4 linked regions of the Homo sapiens genome follow. The protein of the gene in region 1 interacts with the protein of each later gene in a biochemical or structural test. Each region holds a gene or a part of one and is shown in the gene's direction. Other genes may lie near its edges.

The links.
Region 2: of the proteins of CTNND1 (region 1) and PTPRM, one has a biochemical effect on the other in vitro, tested with the Homo sapiens proteins (one study listed by BioGRID).
Region 3: the proteins of CTNND1 (region 1) and CTTN form a complex in vitro, tested with the Homo sapiens proteins (one study listed by BioGRID).
Region 4: the proteins of CTNND1 (region 1) and ZBTB33 form a complex in vitro, tested with the Homo sapiens proteins (one study listed by BioGRID).

The regions. Positions count from the first base shown.
Region 1 is NC_000011.10:57,799,782-57,806,814, forward strand, and holds part of CTNND1 (catenin delta-1), read left to right. Parts: intron 1-1,951; coding exon 1,952-2,415; intron 2,416-3,839; coding exon 3,840-4,023; intron 4,024-4,881; coding exon 4,882-4,999; intron 5,000-6,100; coding exon 6,101-6,254; intron 6,255-6,679; coding exon 6,680-6,697; intron 6,698-7,033. UniProt on the Homo sapiens protein: Key regulator of cell-cell adhesion that associates with and regulates the cell adhesion properties of both C-, E- and N-cadherins, being critical for their surface stability.
Region 2 is NC_000018.10:8,403,311-8,407,384, forward strand, and holds the end of PTPRM (receptor-type tyrosine-protein phosphatase mu isoform 1 precursor), read left to right. Parts: exon of another isoform or gene 1-287; intron 288-2,798; coding exon 2,799-2,852; 3' UTR 2,853-3,546; downstream 3,547-4,074. UniProt on the Homo sapiens protein: Receptor protein-tyrosine phosphatase that mediates homotypic cell-cell interactions and plays a role in adipogenic differentiation via modulation of p120 catenin/CTNND1 phosphorylation.
Region 3 is NC_000011.10:70,401,504-70,408,536, forward strand, and holds part of CTTN (src substrate cortactin), read left to right. Parts: intron 1-3,761; 5' UTR 3,762-3,858; intron 3,859-5,794; coding exon 5,795-5,881; intron 5,882-6,014; coding exon 6,015-6,088; intron 6,089-7,033.
Region 4 is NC_000023.11:120,246,030-120,253,828, forward strand, and holds the start of ZBTB33 (transcriptional regulator Kaiso), read left to right. Parts: upstream 1-4,782; 5' UTR 4,783-4,948; intron 4,949-5,403; exon of another isoform or gene 5,404-5,627; coding exon of another isoform or gene 5,628-5,768; intron 5,769-6,639; 5' UTR 6,640-6,741; intron 6,742-7,384; 5' UTR 7,385-7,386; coding exon 7,387-7,799. UniProt on the Homo sapiens protein: Transcriptional regulator with bimodal DNA-binding specificity.

The DNA.
Region 1 (7,033 bases):
ATACAGAGCCTGAAAAACCCAGAAAAGCATTACCATCTATTGATAAAGAACCACTGTTAACATTTTGGTGCATATCCTTTGAGTTTTTTTAATTATACATGTAACTATATCCTATTTTCCCTCTACTAAAATGGAATCTTAACATACTGCTTAATAGCCTACTTTTAAGCTATCTAAGCTATTCATTTTGTTTCCGTGTTTTTTTTTTTTTTTTTTTTTTTTTTGAGATGGAGTCTTGCTCTGTCACCCAGGCTGGAGAGCAGTGGTGCGATCTGGTATTATACCCAGGAGGCTTTTTGTTCCATGCATGGTATTTTATAATGTTAGTAAATACTTTTCCTTAATTTTATAGTAAGCAGAAAATTTTTATGGTTGGGGTGGATGCAAAAGTGATACATAATAGTTTAGAAGACAACCAATTTTGTTTTACCAGCTGTTTGGGCATTTTTAGTACCCCCTTCTTGATTTGAAGGGTTTAATCTTGACCTTTTTTTTTTTTTCTTCGAAATAGAGTCTCGCTCTGTCACTTAGGCTGGAGTGCAGTGGCACAATCTCAGTTCACTGCAACCTCCACCTCTTGGGTTCAAGCGATTCTCTTGCCTCCGCCTCCCAAGTAGCTGGGATTACAGGTGCCCACCACCATGCCCAGCTAATTTTTGTATTTTTAGTAGAGATGGTGTTTTTCCATGTTGGCCATGCTGGTCTCGAACTTCTGACCTCAGGTAATCCGCCCACTGCAGCCTCCCAAAGTGCTGGGATTACAGATGTGAGCCACCATGCCTGGTCCTGTTTCCGTGTTATTTTAAGACCATCTTGGTCATGGTTTACTAAATGCTTTGTCCATCTGAATCACTGTTGCATAGTTGATGTTGATACCTGTGAGGCAGGCCTTCTGCTCAGGGCAACCTTGAGTATTTGTTGACAGTGGGAGTGGTTTTGTAGAACAAACAATGGCTTATTTGGAGAGCTCCACACAATAGATTATCCTCTCCTGTGGGAGCCAGAAAGAGATGAGCTCACAGATAATGGGTTTCTTCCTTCCTGGTAGTTACGAATAAATAATAGTGTGACAGACTCACCCTCTAGTGGTTGTTGGTAGTACTGAAACAGGAAGAATTGTCTCCTGGTTTGATTTTTCTTACTTTCAATTGCTTTCTCTGTTCCTAGTGGCTGGGCTTCCCAAATGTGATGTTGGTGAATAGGCTTCATTTTGAAAGAGCTGGAGGTATTGTCTTTAGAAATTGGAGGATGGAATCTTACCTCTTAACACATTTGTTGAGTAGCAGACATGACCTTGGAATGACTGTGAAAATTACTTTTCAAGTTTATACCTCATCAGTACCAAAGCCAGATCCTCCTGTGATGTAGCAGGAAGCCCTTTATTAGTTTTTCTCTATCAATCCATCTTTTATAATTTCCAAAATAGGATAAGGAGAAGCTTAAATATGAAATGTATTTAAAGGTCTTATCCTACCAGTTGTTTCCTGTGTGTAAATGCCTAATTTCCTGTTTGGTTAAGGAACTGTTCTCAGACTTCTGTGGCATTGAGTCAGTTGCTTTGGTTAATTCTGTTCTCTGAGAGTTTATCCTGATCTCTACCTAGACAAGTTAATAACTGTCAGATATCATTCAAATAAATGATAAGTAGTAAGGATTTGGTTCTTTCTTTTTGATTAGCCTTTCCTGAATGCTTGTTACTTTCTAAGCCTGCAGACTTCAAAGAAAAAAATGTAGTTTTAATTAAATTGCAGGTGTTTTTAAAATTATTACCTTTTATTTTTACTAACCCATTGAGGAAAATTGATCAGTATATTATTCATGCAAAGGAGAGATAAGATGAGCACACTGAAACTCCAGTTAATCCTCCTTTGCAGATGAGGGTAATGGGAATGTCCAGGAAGCTAGCCATAATGACTTGATGTATTCTCTTGGTTCTTCCAAAACTTCTCAGGAGCTATGAAGACATGATTGGTGAGGAGGTGCCATCGGATCAATACTACTGGGCTCCTTTGGCCCAGCATGAGCGAGGAAGTTTAGCAAGCTTGGATAGCCTGCGCAAAGGAGGGCCTCCACCTCCTAATTGGAGACAGCCAGAGCTGCCAGAGGTGATCGCCATGCTTGGATTCCGCTTGGATGCTGTCAAGTCCAATGCAGCTGCATACCTGCAACACTTATGCTACCGCAATGACAAGGTGAAGACTGACGTGCGGAAGCTCAAGGGCATCCCAGTACTGGTGGGATTGTTAGACCATCCCAAAAAGGAAGTGCACCTTGGAGCCTGTGGAGCTCTCAAGAATATCTCTTTTGGACGTGACCAGGATAACAAGATTGCCATAAAAAACTGTGATGGTGTGCCTGCCCTTGTGCGATTGCTTCGAAAGGCTCGTGATATGGACCTTACTGAAGTTATTACCGGTGAGTTCTAGGCCTAAGGAAAATTGCTAAGTCAGTGTTACTCTCTAGTGATGTTGAGAACTAGAGGGATTTCCAGACCTTTTACTTTTGATGAAAGGTTGTGAACTGGTGGCTGTGGGTCAAATCCATCTCACAGATTTGTTTGGATCACACAGCATTATTGAAATTTTAAAGAACTGGTTGCTGATGTTTAAAATTCAGAAGATTTCACTTAAAATTCCAGATTCTTGGCTTCTATTAAAAACGTGGAAGAGTTGTTAACAATGGATCTCTTTTCTTCCTTAGCAGTATTTGGTCTGAACTGATTGGAGCATGTGCTCTCTAATTTACACTAATCTCCAACACATTCTATTATCTGACCAACTACAGCTGTTTAGGAAGTTGTTTCCCAAACATGGAGCTGTCAACTGCTATTTTTTCACATGCTTGTAATTTCTTTTAATTATCTTCCTCTCTTGACTCACCGGCTTGACCCATATAGACATTTAAGCTTGTGGTTCTTGCTTTATTTAGAGCAGTAGTTTTTCAGATTGTGGGTTGTGATCTATTTGTGTGATCCGTTAGTGAATAAAACAAAATTTTGTGGAGCATAATCAGCATTCCAAGGGAAAGGAATAAAGAAAAAGTAGTATAGACCATTGTTTCTCAGTTGTGGGCCATTTTGCCTGCCCTGCCCTGAGGACATTTGGACATTTGCAGTGTTGGAGATATTTTTGGTTGTTATAACTTGGAACAGGGGAGAGGGAGTGCTACTGGCATCTAGTGAGTAAAGGCCAGGGGTACTGGTAAACATCCAACAATAGACAAGACAGCTCCTCATAACAAAGAATCATCTGGCCGAAAATGTCAGTGGTGCTGAGGTTGAAAAACTCTGGTATAGACAGATCGGAGAGCATTGAGCATTGCTTATAGTTTTGTTTGTTTTTTTTGAGATGGAGTCTCGCTCTGTCACCCAGGCTGGAGTGCAGTGGCACAATCTCAGCTCACCGCAAGCTCCGCCTCATGGGTTCACGCCATTCTCCTGCCTCAGCCTCCCAAGTAGCTGGGACTACAGGTGCCCGCCACCACGCCCGGCTAATTTTTTGTATTTTTAGTGTTAGCCAGGATGGTCTTGATCTCCCAACCTTGTGATCCGCCCGCCTTGGCCTCCCAAATTGCTGGGATTACAGGCGTGAGCCACCACACCCAGCCTGAGCGTTGCTTATAGTTAAACATTGTTTGTTTCATGATCTGTATGTTTATTTTGAGCTATAATGTAGAATATGTTTCTTGGTGAGGGTCGCAAACAAAGCTTGAATATTACTATAAGGTATTTGGTCACTGGGGAAGACTGAGAAGTGATACGATAGGGGGATTCTCTTTGACGTTCTTCAGACATATTGTCTTGAATGCTCAAGAGCCATCTGATGAATTGTCTCTTCCAGGAACCCTGTGGAATCTTTCATCCCATGACTCAATCAAAATGGAGATTGTGGACCATGCACTGCATGCCTTGACAGATGAAGTGATCATTCCTCATTCTGGTTGGGAGCGGGAACCTAATGAAGACTGTAAGCCACGCCACATTGAGTGGGAATCGGTGCTCACCAACACAGCTGGCTGCCTTAGGTAACAGTAGGGACTTTGAGAATATGAAGATGAATTTTTGAGGACTGACTTAAATTTCCTAAAAAAAAAAAAAAATTAAAATTCTTTAGCCTATTCTTTAGCCTCCATTCCTATCTGTATTGCATACTGTAACTCCAACCTTTCTATCTTTGTTGCTATTCTCTCATGTATACCACATGTACCTATATCAGTTTTCTTGCTGTTCCCCACACATCCTCTTCACTTTTATGCCTCTTTGACTTTGTTCATCTACTTTGGTAAGCTTTTGTTCAGCATCTACCACATGTAAGGTGGTCTAGTCCTGGACTTGTGTGTGTCTATGTCCTTGCCCTAGTTATTTGTATTTCAAGTCAGGCTGTGATAAATTCAGCAAAAGGGGTACAGAGTACTAGGAGGTTAGGGCATGGGTGAGGAAGGTCTGTTCTTTCTGTGATGCCTTTCTCTTCTTATTTATCTTTTTGTGGTTAAACTCAAGTGCCTTTATTTTATTAAAGTTTTCCTGAATTCTTTTTATATCCTATAAATGCTGCTATATAATCTTTCTCTCTTTGGAATACACCTCTGTGTGCTGTGTTCCATTCTACATATGTATTATATACTTCCATACGAGAAGTATATATTCCATCTTGAATTACTGCATCTGGTACATATCATTAATCCCTACCCCACAGTGATATAAACATTCAGAAGGCAGGGACTGTTAATCAACTTTCTCTCAACTGCAGTACCTTGCTTATAATAGGTATTTACTATTACAGTGAGTAGAAAAACATATTCAGGAATCTTGTAGGTGTTGAGGGATATTTAAGGGAGGATTTCTGGATTTGAGTCATCTTGAAGCTTCTGGTTTCCCCTCAGGAATGTAAGCTCAGAGAGGAGTGAAGCTCGCCGGAAACTTCGGGAATGTGATGGTTTAGTTGATGCCCTCATTTTCATTGTTCAGGCTGAGATTGGGCAGAAGGATTCAGACAGCAAGGTAAGTGCTGTCTTACCTTTAATGGCTGAGTGAATTTCATTCACCACAACTATGAAGTATCTGTAGGTCAGAGACCTATCATCTCAGGCTTTCAAGTAACATTAAATATTTATACTGTCCCCTACCCCTTATTTTTGAGACAGAGTCTTGCTCTGTTGCCCAGCCTGGGGTGCAGTGATGTGATCTCAGCTCACTGCAACTTCTGCTTCCTGGGTTCAAGCGATTCTCATGCCTCAGCCTCCCAAGTAGATGGGATTACAGGCGTGTGCCACCACACCCAGCTAATTTTTGTATTTTTAGTAGAGACGGGGTTTCACCATGTTGGCCTGGCTGGTCTCAAACTCTTGACCTCACGTGATCCCCCTGCCTCAGCCTCCCAAAGCATTGGGATTACAGGCGTGAGCCACTGTGCCCAGCCAAGCCCTTACTCCTTAAAGTGGGTATTCAACTTAAAACATGTTTTTTGTTTGTTTGTTTGTTTTTTTGAGATGGAGTCTGGCTCTGTCCCAGGCTGGAGTACAGTCCCGTGATCTCGGCTCATTGCGACCTCTCCCTCCTGGGTTCAAGCAATTCTCTGCCTCATCTCCTGAGTAGCTGGGATTACAGGCACCTGCCACCATGCCCGGCTAATTTTTGTGTTTTAGTAGAGACAGGGTTTCACCAGGTTGGTCAGGCTGGTTTTGAACTCCCGACCTCAGGTGATCCACCCGCCTCGGCCTCCCAAAGTGCTGGGATTACAGGTGTGAGCCACTGTGCCCGGCTTTTTTTTCTTTTTTTTTTAAATCTGTCACCTATGTATTTTAAAGCTGCTTAGCTGTCTTCCAAAATTGTACATTGTCTAAGTAGTAAGAATGATGATCCAATTTCAGTCACACACCAAATAGTGGCAGAAGCCAATAAGTCCATAGTTGGACCTTCCATTAGCCTGAGGCTACCGGGATTTCAAGAAGCCTGGAGCACTTAAGAGGCATCCTGAGAAGTTATGGATTGGGTTATGCATTTGAAGATCAACATTTTAATACCTGAGTCATGGAAACCTGTACTTGTGGAGAAATCACAATAGACATTCTTTTTTCTCATTGGCCCTTTTATGTCCCTAAGCTTGTAGAGAACTGTGTTTGCCTTCTTCGGAACTTATCATATCAAGTTCACCGGGAGATCCCACAGGCAGAGCGTTACCAAGAGGCAGCTCCCAATGTTGCCAACAATACTGGGCCACATGCTGCCAGTTGCTTTGGGGCCAAGAAGGGCAAAGGTGAGTCTTGGTTCCTGTTTCTTAGTCTTTAATGTGGGATAGGGAAAGGAAGGAACACTTTAGCTTAAGGTACAAAATACTTGGCAACAGTATGGGAGTCTGCCTGGTTATGGATGTCTTTTTGGTTTGCTGCTTTCCCTGTGTTGTGTGCTTCATTCAAGGTGTGGTGATGGGATGGTGGTTGTGATGTGTTGGTGGTGGTGGTGGTGGTGGTGGTGGTGGTATCAATGAGTGGGGCAGTGGAAAATGAGAACTCAACTAATCTGGGACCTTCTTCCCCATACGTCCTTTGCATTTTCTGTGTTTTTCTTTTCTTCTCTGTGCTTCCCTGCTTATTTGCCCATGATTCTGCTGACATCTTTCTCCTGCATTTTTCTTATTTCATTTCTCTTCTCTGCTTTCTACCTTGGGTGATGCACTGGAAGATGAGTGGTTCTCCAGAGGTGAGTGGAGTCTTTTAAGGTGCTTATCTACTTCTAATTTGCATGTTTTGATTTTAGCTTCCCTAGTATGTCCTTGCCTAACCTTTCCCTGTCTATGCATGTAGGAAAGTTCAGTTGAGGAAGACACTGAAACAAGTTTAGCTCTTTGGAGCTAATAGCTCACGGCATGCTGTTTCTGGGCAGCAGTCCCCATTATCAGAACTCAGGACAATAGCATCAACAGTGGTCATCCTCATCTTACCTATCTGCTGCCTGTTTTCTATCCTTGTTTCTGAATAGTCCCCTGCTGGAACAAGTTGCCCTCACCTGCCCCTTTTCCCCTCGTGGTGCATCTGT
Region 2 (4,074 bases), on another chromosome or scaffold:
AATATAATTTGCATGCCATAACATTTCCCCTTTTAGATGGAAATAATAGACACTGGGAACTCCAAAAGAGCAGGGAGGAGAGGGAGGGTTGAAAAATTACCTGTTGGGTATAACATTCGATTGTAATCAGTTTCCAGTGTTTTGCATTCCTACCAGCCGTGTAATGCACTATGAACATTCATTTGGGGGATGAATACCCTAGGAGCCCAATCCCCACCATTACATGTGTAATACCCATGTAATAAACAAGCACATGTACCCCAAATAAAAAAAAATCCCCTTTTAAAGTGTGTCATTCACTGGTTTTCAGTGTATTCACAGAGTTATGCAACCATCACCACAAACCAAATGTTTAACATTTCCATCACCCACTTAGCCCCCTCAAAGAAATCCTAGACCTACTAGCAGCCACTCCCCATTACCCACTTCCAGGCTCTGGCAACCACCCTTCAGCTTCCAGTCTTTATAGATTTGCATGTGCTGGGTGTTTTCATAGAAAAGGAGTGTGTGCCCTTTTGAATCTGATTTCTTTCACTCAGCAGATTCATCCATGCTTCAGTTCATCCACGTTGTAACATGGATTAGTACTTCATTCCTTTTCATAGCCAAGTAATATTCCACTTTATGGCTATACTACATTTTATTGATGTACATTTGAGTTGTTTACCCTTTTTGGCTGTTAGGAATAATGCTCTGTGAACATTTGTTTACAGAGTTTTTGTGTATACGTATGTTTTCAGTTTCCTTAGGTGTACACCCAGTAGTAGAATTGCTAGGTCATATGGGAATTCTGTGTTTAACCTTTTGAGGAGCTGCCAGACGGTTTTCCAAAGTGGCTGCACCGTTTGACATTCCCTCCAGCCGTGTATGAGGGTTCGCTTTCTCCACGCCCTCGCTAACACCTGCGATTTTCTTGTTATGTGAGCCTTCTCGTGAATGTTATTCCACTGACATTAATCTCATGGCACCGTCAGTGATTGAAATGATCTTCTTGTTCTCTGTCTTCGCCTCTGGATCATGACCTTCCCGAGGACTGAATGTGTCATAAAATCCCCAGTCTCTAGCAGTACATGTGTATTGAGTTGGATCACATGCTGCTGGACCCATGGCTTGTCATCATGTGTACATGTAGCCGACTTTGACTCTCAACTGTGTCAGTTCTGGGCTAGAGACTGTTACTTTATACAAAGAGAGATAAACTGTGTCCCTTGTCCTCAAATAAATAGGTTGGACTACTAGGGTATTTACAAAACAGAGTGTAGGTGAAGAAAAGGAAATTTCAGTGACAAATTAGGAGGCACTTAAGAAATACTGGACGTTTTCAATTAATTTGGCAAAATGAAAAGTAATAGATACATTTCCTTGGTTGTGGCTGTGATGGGTAGAGACAGTGGTGCTGAACCTCGCTCACACATGTGAAAGCTTGTCTGCTCCAGAAGTAGAAGAGAGCCTTCCAGTTGCTAAGGCTCTGTCCAGGGCCGGGCTCCTGCCAGGTGGCAGGCAGAGGCTTCCTCAAGCCCTGCGTCCCTCTTCTGGGTTCAGAGACCACTCCCAGGCTTGGTTCTATCAGCACACTCCATGCATACAGGTGCAGAATGCTCTCCCCGGCCACCCGAGACCACACCTCAGCCAGGACCTTGTGCAGAGCTTGCTTGGGCCAAGGTACACGATCCAGGAAAGCTGAGCTCAAGAAAAATGAATCCAATGCTGGATGTGGTGACTCGTGCCTATAATCCCAGCTAATTAGGAGGCTGAGGTGGGAGGATTGCCTGAGCCCAAGAGTTCGAGGCTGTGTTGAGCCATGATTGCACCACCGCACTCCAGCTTGGGTGACAAAGGGCCATGTTTCTTAAAAAGAAAAAAAAAAAAAAAAGAAAGGAGGGAGAAATTAATTCCCTGTCTGATGAAGAACTGGTCTATGGGTCCCAGAGGATCTCAAACATTTCCCCTTCTGTACCTTTCCTCGTCCTGTTGCCTCCGCCTGGAATGCCTGTTTTAATTAACGGGTGAGGATGGCCACGTACTTTATCCAAACTAGGGCACTTTGAGAGTGAAAGAGGGTTATGCCAGGACAACAGGCAGAAGCCAGGACCGTCCAGGGCAAACCAAGGCTGCCTCCACTCCACGCATCAGTTCCGTCCTCTGGGGAAGGCGCTGTCCACTTCCCACTGCCATCTTCCCTAAGAAGACCTGCCGTCCCCTGAGCATAGGGACCATTCCACCTCATGTGTTGTCATTGGGTTACCTGTCTCATCCTCCTCACTGGATCACGGACTTCTCAAAATCAGGGACCAGGTCAAGGGGCTTGGTATTCAGGAGGTGCTTATGAAATTCTCATGAGATTGAGGAATTCCCACAGACTGAAAGTCAAAGGTAAAGCTGGATCATGCATGAGGCCTCATCTAGGTACCAAGGGCCTTGTGAGAGATGTCAGGAAGGCATTTCCTGAAGCACTCGTTACTTTCTCTTCTACCCCTGACCCTCCTGCACAAAGCTCAGCATGTTGATATCCTGGAAAATACATGTGTGGACAAACATATTTAGAGTTCCAAGTGTCCAGAACCTTCCGGGAATTCTAGCCAGCACAGGTAGCAAAATACCTTCCACCCAGCATTGTGGGGAGCATCTCCAAACAGTGAATGTATCTGGAGTTCAGAACCGTGACTTTCTGATTCATTTCTAATTCAAATCCTCCCAGATTGATGTCTTCCCATTAAGACCCTACTCTATGGTAATTGCTTTACTAGGAACAGCGTTGAGATATTCTTGAGCTGACACTTTCCCCTCCTGTTTTCCAGGATCAGTACAAGTTCTGCTACGAGGTGGCCCTGGAATACTTGAATTCTGGCTGATGGTGTAAACAGCTCTGCAAACAATCCCTTTCATACCACAAAGCCAAGACGTTCCATGGTATTTGTGCAAAAGAGATGAAGACTTCTCAATATGCTTATTTTGCTTTGCATAATTGGCTCTTTTTAAGAGCCCAAGAAAGTGTTTCTAAAATTGCTTGCACTGCCCAATCCCAGTAATGCTGCTGCCTGACAGAAACACACACACAGCCACAGTTGCCAAATCCCGTACTCCTTGCCACCGGCTTCCTAGAGCAGCGTAGACAGCTGGTAAACTGAAGAGCACAACTATATTCTTATGAAGGAATTTGTACCTTTGGGGTATTATTTTGTGGCCCGTGACCCTCGTTATTGTTACAGCTGAGTGTATGTTTTTGTTCTGTGGAGAATGCTATCTGGCATTATGGTAATATATTATTTTAGGTAATATTTGTACTTTAACATGTTGCATAATATATGCTTATGTAGCTTTCCAGGACTAACAGATAAATGTGTAATGAACAAAGATATGTTGTATGAGTCGTCGTTTCTGTCAGATTTGTATTGTTTCCAAGGGAAAAGCTTGGGGGAGGACTCAGTTCACAAAATGCAAAACTCAACGATCAGATTCACGGACCCAGAGCTTTTCCATGTGTTTATATTGTAAATATTTTTGATTTCATCAAATTATTTATTCATTAAAAGAAATTTTTGTGAAGCACAGTGAGTGACAATCATTTTTCTTAAGGCCTGGAAACGATTTTCTGTATGATGTTACTTTATGTGAATTCTCATCTCAATAAATGATGACCCGTGAGCAGCCGTGGCATGTTCCTGGTGTCCCAGTGCACAGGCGGTGGAGGCCGCACCCGACACGCCAGCACACAGGGGGAGAGAGTGCGGCCGGGGCCTGTTTGCCGGAGCAAGTAGAGTAGAGTTTTTTTGAGAGAGAGTGTTCGTCAGTGAGAGCACTGAGCCCTTCACGGTGGCCTGCCCTGGTGCCGGGGAGGCTCAGCCATGAGCCTGCACCATGGGGCGTGAGCCCTGACCTTGTGGGGCAGCCAGGCCAGGGGCCATGGCAGAGACTTGCTAACTGGAGCATCGTCTTCCTTTCTCTGTTTCCCCTCAGTCTGCGGGGGATAATATCTCTCTTCTCTATGCCTCAGGCCAACCTAAGACTTGCTGAGAGAACAGTTTTTAAAGGGTTAGAGAATCAGAGTGCATTGAAGGACACCGAGCTGAACAA
Region 3 (7,033 bases), about 13 Mb from region 1:
TGGGTGTAGTGACAGGTGCCTGTAGTCCCAGCTACTCAGGAGGGTGAGGCAGGAGAATCGCTTGAACCCAGGAGGCAGAGGTTGCGGTGAGCTGAGATCACACCATTGCACTCCAGCCTGGGCAACAGAGTGAGACTTCGTCTCAAACAAAAAAAAACAAAAAAAAAAAGAGAGAGAAAAATCAGCTTGGTGTGGTGGTGCATTCCTGTAGTCCTAGCTACTCGGGAGGCTGAGGTGGGAGGATCACCTGAACCTGGGACACAGAGGTTGCAGTGAGCTGAGATTGTGCCTCTGCACTCTAGCCTGGGCCACAGTGCAAGACCCTGTCTCAGAAAAAAAAAAGAAAAAAAAGGCTGGTGGGGGGCTTTTAGGCGCGGTGGTTCGTGCCTGTAATCCCAGCACTTTGAGAGGCTGAGGCTGGCAAATCACTTGAGGCCAGGAGTTGGAGATCAGCCTGGACCAACATAATGAAACCCCATCTCTACTAAAAATACAAAAAATTAGCTGGGTGTGATGGCGCATGCCTGTAATCCCAGCTACTCGGGAAGCTGAGGCAGGAAAATCACTTGAACCTGGGAGACAGAGGTTGCAGTGAGCCGAGATCGCGCTGTTGCACTCCAACCTAGGCAACAGAGCAAGACTGTCTGAAAAAGAAAAAAAAAGTTATTGTGTAGAGGAATTTTTCACTCTGTCTAGACAGCAAGATTACTTCACGTTTGTGCAATCTTGATTTGTACACTGACGTTTGCAAGGAAGGTTTAATGTTGAGGATGGACAGAGTCATTATCTTCTTTTGAACCGTATTGTAACAGCTTTATCGAGATATAATTCACATACCATACAATACGCCTGTGTAGTGTGTACTCTCCACTGGTTTTTAGTATCTTCATGCAGTTGTACAACTGTCACCACAGTCAATTTCAGAATAATTTTATCACCTCAAAAAGAAGCCCTTGTACCTTTTAGCCATGACCTCCCTATCCTCACCACCACCATCCGCCCAGCCCTGGGCAACCAGCAATGTATCTTTTGTCTCTGTAGATTTGTGAACTCCAGACATTTCCTAGAAATTGAATCGTATAATATGTGGTCTTTTGTGCGTGGTTTTCCTTTGCGCAATGGATTTGAGGTCCCTCCACGCTGTAGCAGGTGTCACTGCTGGATCCTCTTTGTGGCAGAATAAAATGCCTTTGTGTTAGGTAGACCACATGTTATGTATCTATCAGTTGATGGACATTTGGAGTGTTTCTGTTTTTTGGCTGCTATGAATAGTGCTGTTCTGAACACTCACGCACAAGTTTTTGTGTGCTTATACTTTATTTCTCTTGGGCATAGACCTAGGAGTGGAGTTGCTGAGTCATACAGTACCTGAGTTTAACCTTCTGAGGAACTGCCAGACCTTTTCCATTTAACATCCCTGTCAGCAGTCTATGAGGCTTCCAGTTTTTCAACACTGTTGCTGAGATTTGTCATTGGCTGTTTTATTTTAGTCATCCTAGTGGGTATGAGGTGGGTTCTCATTGCAGTTTTGATTTGCATTTCCTTGGTGGTTAATGACATTGAACAAACTTTTCCTGAGCTTGTTGGCCATTTGTATATCTCCTCTGAAGAAATGTCTCTTCAGATCCTTCAATCATTTTTAAATGGGGTTATTCGTCCTTTTTATTGAATTATAAGAGTTCCTTTTTTTTTTTTTTTTTTTTTGAGATGGAGTCTCACTCTGTCGCCAGGCTGCAGTATAGTGGCGCAATCTCGGCTCACTACAGCCTCTGTCTCCCGGGTTCAAGCAGTTCTCCTGCTTCAGCCTCCCAAGTAGCTGGGACTACAGGCATGCGTCACCACGCCCTGTTAATTTTTGTATTTTTCGTAGAGACGGGGTTTCACCATGTTGGCCAGGATGGTCTCGATCTCTTGACCTAGTAATCCGCCCGCCTCGGCCTCCGAAAGTGCTGGGATTACAGGCGTGAGCCACCTCACCTGGCCAAGAGTTCTTTATATATTCTGGATCTACAGTTCAAAATACTTTTCTCTCAGGATCGTCTTGTCACCTTCTTGATGAAGCACAAAATTTTTAATTTTGTACAATTTATTTTTTTCCTCTAGTGTTTTGGTGTCATATCTAAGAAACTATTGCCAAATTCAAAGTCACAAAAATTTACACCCTTTTAGGATTTTAGTTCATTTTTGAGTTAATTTTTCTGTATGGTTTTGAGGTAGGGCTCTAGAGGCTTTTTATCTTTGGATCCACAAAACAATCAAACTTATTTCCTATTGGTTATTTTTGTGATTGTTTTTTAAATTTCCAATATTGAGAGTATAAAATTGTGGATCTGAGCCTATCCTTAGCTGCTCATGAGTAGATTTTTATTATTTACTTTATGATTGATTTATGTATGAGACAGGGTCTCTCTCTGTCTCCCAGGCTGGGGTGCAGTGGTGTGATCATGGCTCACTGCAACCTTGAGCTCCTGGGCTCAAGCAGTTCCCCCACCTCAGCCTCCTGAGTAGCTGGGACTACAGGTATACACGACCATGCCTGGCTAAATTTTTAGGCAGAGTTGTATAGATGCTTGCCGATTACACTAATAACTGCAGTAACCAGAATGTAGCAAGCAATCTGTAGAAGTTAGGATTGCCGAAGGGAACTGGGGAGAGAGATGGAGCAAACAGTTGGGTCAGAAACCAGATAGGAAATTAATTAATTACCAGGAGGGCCAGCCAGGCACCATCCCCTAGTTCCTAATGCGTGAGAAACCACTCTGCCTGTGACCGGCTTGTTCCTAGGGACAAGGGGATTTCATTCGTCCATGTGTGTTGTCTAGCAGTATGGTGTCCAGTTGAGGCTGATGTGTGGTCCTAGGGAAGGGGTCGTGTGCTTGGCCACCCTCTGGGGAGCTGGAGTCTTGCTCCCTGCGCGGTAACCGTGTACGTTCATTAGGAATGCAGCCCGCCTCCTCCTCGGCTCTCCAGCTGCCAGTCTCATGTCTTGATAGACAGTCACCATACTGGTTTTTCCTCCCGGCCATATCATGATCCTCTCAAGGAGTGTTTTTCTTATATTATTGTTTTAAAAAGCTCACAGTAACAATTTTATTTTATAATGTCATTAATTAGAATGAATAAAAAGTGAAAATCTCTAAGAATTATGGCAAACAGTAAATGCATACTAGCAATTAAGGCAATAATTTCTGTTTGCATTCATAAGAAACATCATGTAGGCCGGGCGCCATGCCTCACACCTGTAATCCCAGCACTTTGGGAGGCCAAGGCAGGCGGATCACCTGAGGTCGGGAGTTTGAGACCAGCCTGACCAACATGGAGAAAACCCGTCTGTACTAAAAATAGAAAATTAGCTGGGCGTGGTGGCGCCTGCCTGTAATCCCAGCTACTTGGGAGGCTGAGGCAGGAGAATCACTTGAACCCGGGAGGTGGAGTTTGCGGTAAGCCGCGATTGTGCCATTGCACTCCAGCCTGTGCAACAAGAGTGAAACTCCATCTCAAAAAAAACAAAACAAAAAAGACAAAAAGTCATCATGTAGTTAGAAATCTTTTAAAACTTATTTCTTTAGTTTCTCTCTGTTGAACTTTTTTATTAGTAAAATGCAAGTCTTCCCATCCTCCTCTCAGATTTCATTACAAAACCTTGTTACGTTTGGGAAGATTTCTGAAGTTTTCTAAAAAGATCTCCACACAGAAGGGTTTGCCCAGGGAGCTGCTCAACATACATCCTTCTCAGCTTTTTACCCTTAATCTTTTTACAGACGGAATCAGTCCCCAATGCCTGGAAATTCCTCATTGGATTACTGTGTTTTAAACAGAATTTCGTGAACAGCCTTTTATCTCCAAGCGGAAAGAAAGGTACTTGTGCATTGTGAACATCCTAACATTCTTTTCCTGTGGATGGTAAGGGCAAAAATCCCTTTAACAGGAAACGGGGGAGGTTGCTGTTTCTGTGGATTTACTGGGAGAGAGATGATAATATTCTGGAAGGAAATTTCATTGTTTAAAAAATAAAGTCAGGTTTCTGTTGCATATGACTTAGAGGAGACAATTGCAGAAAACTCTGGAATTGAGGAAGAGAACCATTCCTGTCCTCCCTGAGGGGAAATCTGGCCCCTTCCCCACCCCATGAACATGGGTGGGGCCCCCAGGCACAGGATTGTGAAGCTCGCAAGTGCCCACCCCGCTCGCTGGTGAAGCTGTGTCCGGGAAGATGAGCAGAGACTGTGCTCTGCTAATCTCTCCCCGATGAGCCTGAAAAAGTACCAGGCAAAGACACCTGCCGCCTTTCTCCTTTGCCTTGGGGGTGAAGGTGGCCTCGCCAGCCCTGCAGGGACTCCCATCCTTTCTTGCAGCCACCTTCTCAGTGGTGGGAACCATGGGCAGCTGAAGTCCTGCAGGCGGGCAGCCCCCTCGCCAGGGCAGCATGGTGCCATGGGGCGGCCGGAGACCAAGCATCCCGTTTCTCTTTCCTGCAGCCGTTGCTTCATTTATAAATGGGCGCGTTGGGACAAGATGGACTGGTTGTGCCTTTCCGTTCTGAGATTCTAGTTCATCTGTTTTCTAAAATCCTGGCAAAAGCAGATCACTCTGGAAATTCTTGCCATGCTTTGGGCATTGACAGAAGGTTCCAGGGGCACTGTTAGTCCTGCTACACCCCTTGGCAGACGGTTCTTCCCCAAGAGACAAAGTCGCACCTAGAAATTTGAGAGCACGCTGCCCTGATTGGTCCCTCACTGTCACATTGGATTTGGACTTGAGACCCAGCCAGGCTGGAGGGAGAGGAGCCAGATGGGACATTCTCAAGCTGCGAAGGGGTTTTGTCCAGTCCTGATTCAGGGCGCTAGAGTCCCAACATGGCACCTGAGAAAAAGTGAATTGGGTGTCCTCAGTTCAGACCCCTGGGCACAGCTTATGGTTGTTTGATTTAAAATAATCTCTCAGTTGCTCTGTGGCCTATGTGTAATTGTATTACTATTTCTGTGGAAAAGGAATCACTTCTTTTTATACATAGTTTGAAAAAAAAAAAAAAACCTTAAAATTTTATATTTTACCACTGCAGTTACAAGAATTGTCTTGTTAGGGTTTACAGATGTGCCATTGTTCTGTATAACAGAGAAAACCTTCCAGTCTTCAAGGGCTGAGGGAGAAGGTGGCTGCCCACTTGCAGAGCTGCCTGATAGAGGAAAAGGTGGCATTTTATATTCCTGTTTTCTTCCAAGTAGAGAGTAAAGCAATTCTCCAATAAACTACTTGAAACATTTATTAAATTGTAAGTCTGAATTAGGAAAATTATTGTTATGGTTTCAGTAAGCACTTGAAATCAAAATGGGTGCACTTTTTAAAAATGTGTGATAAAATACACATACCATGAGATTTACCATTAGTAACATTTAGTATATTTATAATACATAATCCAAAATGGTGCTTTTATTTTTGGTTGGAAACTATCATCATATGATTGAACAGAACAGGAATATGTTCTTAATGAATAAATAAGTGCACACACGACTTTTTTATTTTCCAGAAAATTTTCTCACTCAAGGTGAAGCCAAATAGTATTTCCAGTATATTTCTGACGTCAGGTGACGGCAGTGTTAGAACCCCGAGGTGAAATTTCTTTTACTCCTGTGGTTGTCAGTCAGGCTTATGGATCATGAAGGATTGGCTGGTCCTGCAGCCTCGTCCTCCTGGGTTGCCTAGAATCTCGGTAGTTTTGGCCAAAGGGCTCATCTGCTGGCCTCTGTGGATGGCGCCCTGAGGCCTCCGTAACCCTCCCCGGCTGCTCTTTCAGATGTGGAAAGCTTCAGCAGGCCACGCTGTGTCCATCGCCCAGGATGACGCGGGGGCCGATGACTGGGAGACCGACCCTGATTTTGTGGTAGGAGCCGCCAGCCTTTGCTTTCCTCTTTCATGAAGTGGAAGTGGCTCTCCTGGGTTTTTCTTTGATGGGGTGGTGGTTTGTCTGTGTCACAATCCAGGCTGTGAGATTTACTGGTCGCTTTTCTTTTCAGAATGATGTGAGTGAGAAGGAGCAAAGATGGGGTGCCAAGACGGTGCAGGGCTCCGGGCACCAGGAGCATATCAAGTAAGAGGCGTCGCCACCACCCTCCCGAGGGCCCCTCTGCGGATGGAGCCCCAGGTGCAACAGGGCCCATGGTCATCTGTGGAGGGACAGCCCGTGTGGAAACTGCATTTATCTTCTTGACCTGATACCCATGCAGTAAATGAATATAAGACACACACATATATGTGTATTTGTGTAATGTGTGTGTTTATATGTGTATATTTAGATACTTCTGTGCTCAGTAATTTTTAAATTCCCATTGCAAACAATTTCCGTATTTATAATTTTAGAGTGTCCGCTTCTCAGTATTGTGGCTTTTATCAGGGAACATTTGTCCCTAAGCTCTACCTTACAAGCGAGAGGTTTCTAAAGTATGAGATGTCTGAATAACTGAGACCTTAAATGCCCTGTCCCTTTTTTTATTATCTGGAAATGATTATGTGTTAATAGTGAGGTACTGTGAGCTTTGTGTTCTTATCGAAAGCCCAGAGTTGGGCACTGAGTGAACCCTGTCATTGTTTCTCACTTGGCACTATCTAAAATGCCAGCTCTTGGGGCAGTTTTTTTTTTCGTCAGAAAGTGTAGATAAAAGGAACTTTTAAAATATGCTCAGACTTTTATTTTAGGCCACGCTGGGTTCAGAGTGGATCCTCCTTTCCCTGGCTGTGAAGGCAGCACCACTGACCCGGTGACCGCCTCAGTATCCCGGGAAGACTGTCCCGCTTGACCACGGTCCCTTCAGCTGAGAAAGATTTAGTCCTTCCTCCAGAAAAGAAGGCACAGCCTGCACAATGGCTTTTTATTTTGTTGTTAAAGATTTATTTATTTATTTATTTATTTATTTTGAGACAGGGTCTCACTCTGTCACCCAGGCTGGAGTGCAGTGGTGCAATCATAGCTCACTGCAGCTTTGACTTCCTGGGTTCAAGCGATCCTCTCACCTCAGCTTCCTGAGTAGCTGGAACC
Region 4 (7,799 bases), on another chromosome or scaffold:
CTCCACCTCCTGGGTTCAAGTGATTCTCCTGCCTCAGCCTCCCAAGTAGCTGGGATTATAGGTGCCCGCCACCACACTCGGCTAATTTGTGTATTTTTAGTAGAGACGGGGTTTGGTCACGTTGGCCAGGCTGGTCTCGAATTCCTGACCTCAAGTGATCCTCCCACCTCGGCCTCCCAAAGTGCTGGGATTACAGGCATGAGCCACCGTGCCCGGCCTTGTTCCTTATATTCTAAGGCTTTTCGCTTGCTGTTTGAGAAAGGGAAGTGGGAGCAGCCCCTGATATCCACAAACTGACCTCGCACTCACAATTAGGCATGTTCTTCTCTTGTTGAACATAAACTCACAGAACACCAACCCAAGACAAGATCACTGGGAGCCTGATCAAGTGAGACAAAACAAGACCACTTCATAAGCTTGTCTAAGCACAGACAAAAACAAGCTCACTGTGACACCCAGAAAACACCAAACACCCCTTCTTGGCCAAGATAGGTCACTGCTACTTTGCCAGTTAATGTACAGCTTTATCCTCCCTCTAGTCTGCCCTCCCTATAAATAAGATTTATTGAAATGTGCAATCATACAATTGCCCCTGCTTTCTGATGTATCTGAGACGGAACTCCTGATTCCTAGACCTTCCCCCAAATTGTCCAAATCCTATAATAGGTTCATTCTAACAACTTCTTATTGAAACACATCATAGTTACCTATAGTGTGTGTTGTCCCTCCCTGGAGTAAGAGTAATAAACTCAATCTGTCAACTATGGGTATGTTTCTGGTAGTCTTTGGTTGAAGGGCAATGACACATTCCACTGCCTAAAATGTTCTTCCCCAGATATTTATATGGCCCTTTCCCTTAGTTCATTCCATTCTTTGGCCATACATCATCTTTTCAGAGAGGCTGTGCTTGACCACACAATTTACAATAACACCCTCATCATTCTCTATCCCTTTGCTCTATTTTTCTTCATAGCACTTACTACTTTCTGTTTTTGTATTATATATTTATATTATATATATACAAATGTTGATTGTATGTCTCTTCCATTATAATGTAAGTTCCATGAAGACCAATATCTCAACTTGATGATAATTATATCCACAGTGCCTACAACACTGCCTACAACACTGCCTGGCACAGAGTAAATACTAAATGATATATGTTTAATATGTATTGAAAAAATGAATGAAGTTTACAGTGTCGGGCTTTATAAGTTTCATTGTCACATAGTCATAATCAATCTGTTGTTTGGACTTAGTCTTCCACTTAAATAGATTGGCTTACTGCAAAATCTCCATTCTTAATTCTTTATTTGGACTCATTTCTTATTTGATTTGACTTCATATATTGCCAAGTAATTTTCACAAATGACTCATAGGTAGTATATTCCCTCAATTTTGTTCAAGTTTGGAATAAGCTGTCTGTTGCTTTTTTTGGTAGATTGTATTATTGTTAGCAATTATCGACGACTCCTTTTCCAGTAGGAGAGTTATATATCCCTATCCAATTGACTTTGGAAAGTTTTAAGAAAAAAGGGCAATAGGCAGTATTAGACAGGTCACTTAAAGAGAGATTTGTTGGGATTAAGCAGAAAAGGGGATAGTGGTGAGAAAGCAACATATATTTGGCACTTACTGGGTTCCAGACACTCATTCGTTCAGCATTAAGCAACCATCTCTATCTACAATTTGTTGGGCCAAGGGATGCTTCACAAATAAGTTAGTACTTGAGTTGGGTTTTTATGGAAAACCAGGCACTTGCCAGGAACTAACCAGACAACAGGTTAAGCGAGGTGTGGCTATGAAGGGAATGACTATTCCAAGCTCAGGGCTCCAGGCTCAGACTTGAAGGCAGTAAATTGCATGGCATATTCTGGAAACCGTGAGCAGTTTGACACTATGCATAGTTGATTCATTTAATCCTCAAAGTGACTCTGTGGGAAGGTATTATTATCCCTATTTTACAGATGAAGAATCAGGCATAAGATCAAAGAGCTAGGAAGTGGCAGTATCAGAATTCCAACCCACTCACATCTTCTGCTTAAGACTTTGTTTCTTCCACTCTACCTTACTAGGGTTTCTGCAGATCCCATGGAGTGACCTTACCAAATCTGTAACCATAAGCATAACATATAGGAAGTGCTCTAAGACTGAACGAGTGTCACTTTATCTTTTGTCATCAATTAATATATATTAAGCACCCACAAGATTGTTGGCATTTTAACACAGGAGAGGACAGTTACCGCCCTCATGGAATTCACAATCAAGGTCAAAAGGCAAGCAAACGCTGACAATACGGCTATAAAACCTAACTCATCCCATTTTCAGCCAATAAAACCTTTCTAGAATGTGAAACAATTGATACCTCCAAATCCATTTGATATAGGTTGTTCTCTGACCTCAGGTGATCCTCCCACCTCGGCCTCCCAAAGTGAGTTGTTGTTGTTTGAAATAGAGTTCAAACTACTGGGTTGTTTGAAGTAGGGTTAAGCCCTCCAGATTAAAAACAAAAGTAAAAGTGAAATGACTAGTTGAGAAACAGAAAATTAATTAAACTTTCCAGTGATCCTGTCCCAAAGACAATTATTAAGGCCACTCAGGCTTCTTGGTCTGTTCTGCTTTCCTACAAATAAAATTCCTTTCCTGACCATTGGACCCCCTTTCATTATAGGTAGCTTTTAAACTTGTTTAGTTTTTGCTTGGTTAGGGGGTGAGAGATACAGCAAGAAGGGAAGAGAAGGTTTACTGTGCTTTGAATGAACAGGTTTCATCATATGTTAGTTGGTACTCCAAACTTTTAAAATACTTTCAGGAAAGTGACAATGGCATGGCAATTCTGTTGCCAGCCTCAGTGATGTAAATGCTGGTACAAAATAAATTGCATTGTGCCTTCCAGTTTACTGAGAGCTGACCAACAAACATGATATCTAGAGTGGCATCTATTGCCACTGTGATCTGTATTTCAAAGATATGTCTCATTTTAGTTTTCATCAATTAAGCCACTGAAAGATAAATAGATCCTAAACTTTCAAGATATACTTTGTTCTAATTACTAAGATTTTTTTTTTTACTACTAAGTTTTGGGGAGGATAACTCAGAAAAATGGTTATTAAGTACTCAGTTGCCAGGAAAAATACTAATCTGCCTTAGTTTATTTTACAACAGCATACTTCTATTTGCCATGAAATATCTTTATAGTAAACAATGAAACTTTTCATAATGCTAAGTCCTAATCAAAAATCAATAATGCAATAATTCCCACATAGTTTGTTTTCCCACAATACAAAATCTTGGAGAAGAGCTTAAGGAATTGCATATTTCCATGTGAAATACAGCTATATTATACCACTTTGATGTTTTATTATACCATGTGGCTTTACTTTATTGAGGAGGATGAAGAATAGATTAGGGATAGGTAGATGAGATGATGACATCCATGTCTGATTTCCTGTCAGAGAAAATTAGATATAGTTACATCTGTTTTCAGTCTAATATCCTGATGGACATTTTCAGCAAGATTTTTTAGGAAAGAAGCACAGGAATTCCACTGCAAGGTATTAATAGGTACAAATTTAAGATTTTGGAAATGAATGCAGTATTATCCTATATATATCTTTTTAAAAAGATAATGAAGGTAGTGAATGGCCTTAATTATGGCAGAAAAAAAGTTACTATTTGGTTCCTTAGTTGAATACGATCAATAACCAGCCTAAAAGGGAAACATTTTGCTCTCCAAACACCCATCCTGTTGCTTCATTTATTATGGTACTCAGTTGGAAGGGTATTACCAGAGGATTTTAAAAAATTATGTAACTCACAATGTATTTTTTCGGTCATTAAACAATCACTGAACACATACTATGTGTCAGACACTAAAGCCCTCTGAAGATGAAATGTTATGGAAATAGTAATAATAAAAAATTAAAATAGTAACAATAAAAAATTAAAAATGCAAGTGTTAATATTATTAATCTTTCAAGATACAGGTCAAATGACAGCATTCAATTTGCTATTCTCTTCTCTCTGCTTCTACACCTTGTACAAATATTTTTGTCCATGTTTGTGTACCTACCTACTGAGCTCCCTAAAGAGGTAGAGACCTTTGGGTTATTCATTTTTGTATTCCCGAGAGCCTAACATAGGGTTTTTGCTACAGATCAAGCAGGGGGTCAGTAAATGCTAGTTGGAATGAGGGAATTAACATAGTACTGCACCATTTAGTATTCAATTAAGAAGATAGTTGTCCAAACACTAAATTTCTTTCTTAAAAGTAGTTACTGTAATGTAGTTGCTCTCTTGTTATCCCAGAACTTGAATTACCATAAGAAGTTGTGAATTTCTATTTGATTGTATGTATTTTGATTATATTTCAAGATGGTTTATCATCTAGCAAACAGTCTAATAGAGCAGATTCAAACTTGCAAAATAAATGAAACCTGTATAGTCTCTAAAAGTTTGTATGCCCTAGAAGTTCACATTGAATTTCGATGAAAACGACTCGCTTCCCTTCCATCCAATTGCTTGCGACTGTCTTACCCGATCTTTCCCTTTCCTTTTTTCCCACCCGTTAGCCCTCCGGAAAGAGCCGAACACACAAGAGCTTCCCAGTCTTCCTCCGCCCCCTTGCGGAAAGAACCGAAGGCAGAGCACGGCGCCGAAGTGGAGCCGCCTCAAGCTCGGGCCCTTCCGGACCACCCCGGCCTGCGCTCGGAAGAGGAGGGCGCCTTTGGCTTCAGCGCTTCGCCCCCGCGCTGTGCCCTCTGTCGGCGGCGTGGGGCAGCTGTAGCAGCGTTGGCGGCAGGAGGCGGCGGCCGCGTCGACGTCGACCCAGACTGGAGCGACGTTTAAAGAAGGGGCAGAATCGCTGGGGAGTGCGGCTTCTTCTTGTTGGGGGACTCCCAGCCTTCCGCGCGTCCGGAGGAGGAGAAGCGGCGGCGCCGGGAAGCAGGTGAGGACCCGGCCCCAATCAGGGAGGGGGCGAAGGAGCGCGCTTGCCTTCTCCGTCCCTGGGCCGCGCCTGCGTTTGCATTCGCCTCACTTGAACCAGGAAGCGGCAGAGTCGGAGGCTCAGCTCCTCCGGCTCTTTCTTTGTGTGGGCCGGGGAGCGAAGGAGGGGACGAGCCGCGAGGGCCGCGGCGCGGTCCCCTTCGCCGTTAGGGGCCGAGGGGCTGCCGGTGCCCTGGGTAGGCCCCGGGGCTTGGGGAATCCATCACAGAGACCCACTTGGCTTTTCCCTCGCCCCTCTCGCTGCTTTTTTGTGCCTCTTTTACTCCCCTAGCCCCTACTTTGATTTAGAGCTTTTCTGCCAGGCCCATCCTCCCCTTCCGTCCCCTTCCCGGGGCACAACAATGCCGCCTGCTTCGCTTCATCCCCCCCCCAACACCCCACCCTGCCGTTCGCCACCTTCTACTTTCCCTGGTACCCCATATTCCTCCCGCCCTCACTCTGCTGTTTGTACCTCCGTCTGTATTTGCAAGAAGCTTGCTTTGCACGTGAATTGGGGTTAAAAACCTCGGTTGCAGCTGGCAGGGTCCATATGGGGAAGAGGGAGGTGGAGGAAGGGAGATGAGGTTCAGCTGCCGCAGGGAGCCGCGTGTCGGTTTGTTTCACTCCCTCGCGGATGGCTTTTATCTCTTTCCACCGTCACCAGCTCCTCCGAACTGGCCCTCGGTCAAGGGTTTCACAGTGATGTGGAATGGCTTTTCCACAGTCGAATCGCATATCTTCGGAGTGGGTTCAGACCGACTTGTGCTGTCTCTGGGGCCACCCTGAGTGGGAGGAGGGGGACACATAAACGAAACGAAACCGAGTCCCAGTGTCACCTGGACACGTACATTTGACGCATTCCCATATTGGAAGAACCCGGGAGCAAATGACAAAAATTGCGTGCCGTTTTCAGAAAACCTGTCTTTCCACTTAATATCGACTTCTGTCGAAATGCCCGTATTTCGGAAGCCCTGGTTTTTGGCAAACTGTCCAAAGGTCACCCTTTCTGATGATGAATGCCTTTATGGTAACCTGGAATTCCTTGGTACTGTTAACATGCAACACCTTCTAATAATGTTTTAAATCTTGATTTTTAGACTTTTTGCCTGCTGTTTGTTCTTAAGGTATCATTTTGAAAAATTTAGAAGGTATTTGAGACAGAACTGCCCTCCACCTGTATATAACTTAAGCATTGTGACATCGACACCCTTTTGGTAACTTCAAAGGGAGAGAATATTAATAAAAATATTTCTTCACTAAAAGTACTTGTCAACTAATTGTTAATATATAATATCCATATATTAAAATATATCCATATATAATATGTATGGATATTATATATTTTTAATATATGGGTTTTTTTAAACTCTGGCCTCTTTGTTACTGGAAATATCTTCTGCAAAGTGCAAAAAATGATGTTTTGCTAGTGCTACACAACAATGCATTCTACTGACATCATCCCCTTTTTCTAGAGTAGTCTATTCCAATAAGTTAATGTTTTCATTTTCACTAACTCATTTGGTGTGGAAAAAATTCTCATACCAATGCATATGATTCTTTACCAACAAAAATAAAATGTTTCGTGTTTTCTTGGAAGTGGGCATTTAGAAATGGTAAACTTTCCTTTTCCTTTGTCATATTTTTTCATGATAGTGTCTGTTGACTTCACTTGGCACTGTTTAACATTCCACCTCTGGAAATTGTAAAGATGGAGAGATGAGGGGAAGGGACAAGGGGATGAAGAAAGAGGAAAGGGTAAGAAAGATGTTTAATAGTTTATCAAGATGAGGCACCCCAATTTAAATAACAGAAAAATAATGGGACGTTGGGAGGTAATAATTGTCAGTGTTTATAAATGTCATTGGCTCCAGGGTGTAGATTCTGCATATATTCTTAAAGATTAGTTAAAATTAAGAGTATGTATTTCAGACACAGTATTGCACGCGCTGAGCTTTTCTGACATTTCAATCATTTACAGGCGAAATAACTTCTGTGTGTTCATGATGATTTTCCTTAATTTTGACAGTTAAAAGTCAACTCTTACCTCTTCTTGGAGAGAAAACCCAAAATTGGGACTAAGAAAATTAATTCTAATCTTTAAAAATCACTTAGTGGAGGTGCATGTATCTAATATTCAAAAAAAGGTGACTATGGAGATTACTGTTCAAATCTCTGTAACAATGTAAAACTTGCTCAACTCAGGAGCAAGCCATGAAATTGGACACTTGTTCCAAAAGCCAACCTGTATGAACAATTTCTGTAAAAGCCAAAAAATTATGCTGAACTTTGGTTAAAACTTGAATAAACTATTTAATGATGCTACTGCTTAAATTCTAAATAAGTACTTTTGTTTTTTCTCTCTAATCCTCTCCCATCCCCTCCTCTCTTTCTCTTAAAGGCATGGAGAGTAGAAAACTGATTTCTGCTACAGACATTCAGTACTCTGGCAGTCTGCTGAACTCCTTGAATGAGCAACGTGGCCATGGACTCTTCTGTGATGTTACCGTTATTGTGGAAGACCGAAAATTCCGGGCTCACAAGAATATTCTTTCAGCTTCTAGTACCTACTTCCATCAGCTCTTCTCTGTTGCTGGGCAAGTTGTTGAACTGAGCTTTATAAGAGCAGAGATCTTTGCAGAAATTCTCAATTATATCTATAGTTCTAAAATTGTTCGTGTTAGATCAGATTTGCTTGATGAGTTAATTAAATCAGGGCAGTTATTAGGAGTGAAATTTATAGCAGAGCTTGGTGTCCCATTGTCACAGGTTAAAAGCATCTCAGGTACAGCGCAGGATGGTAATACTGAGCCTTT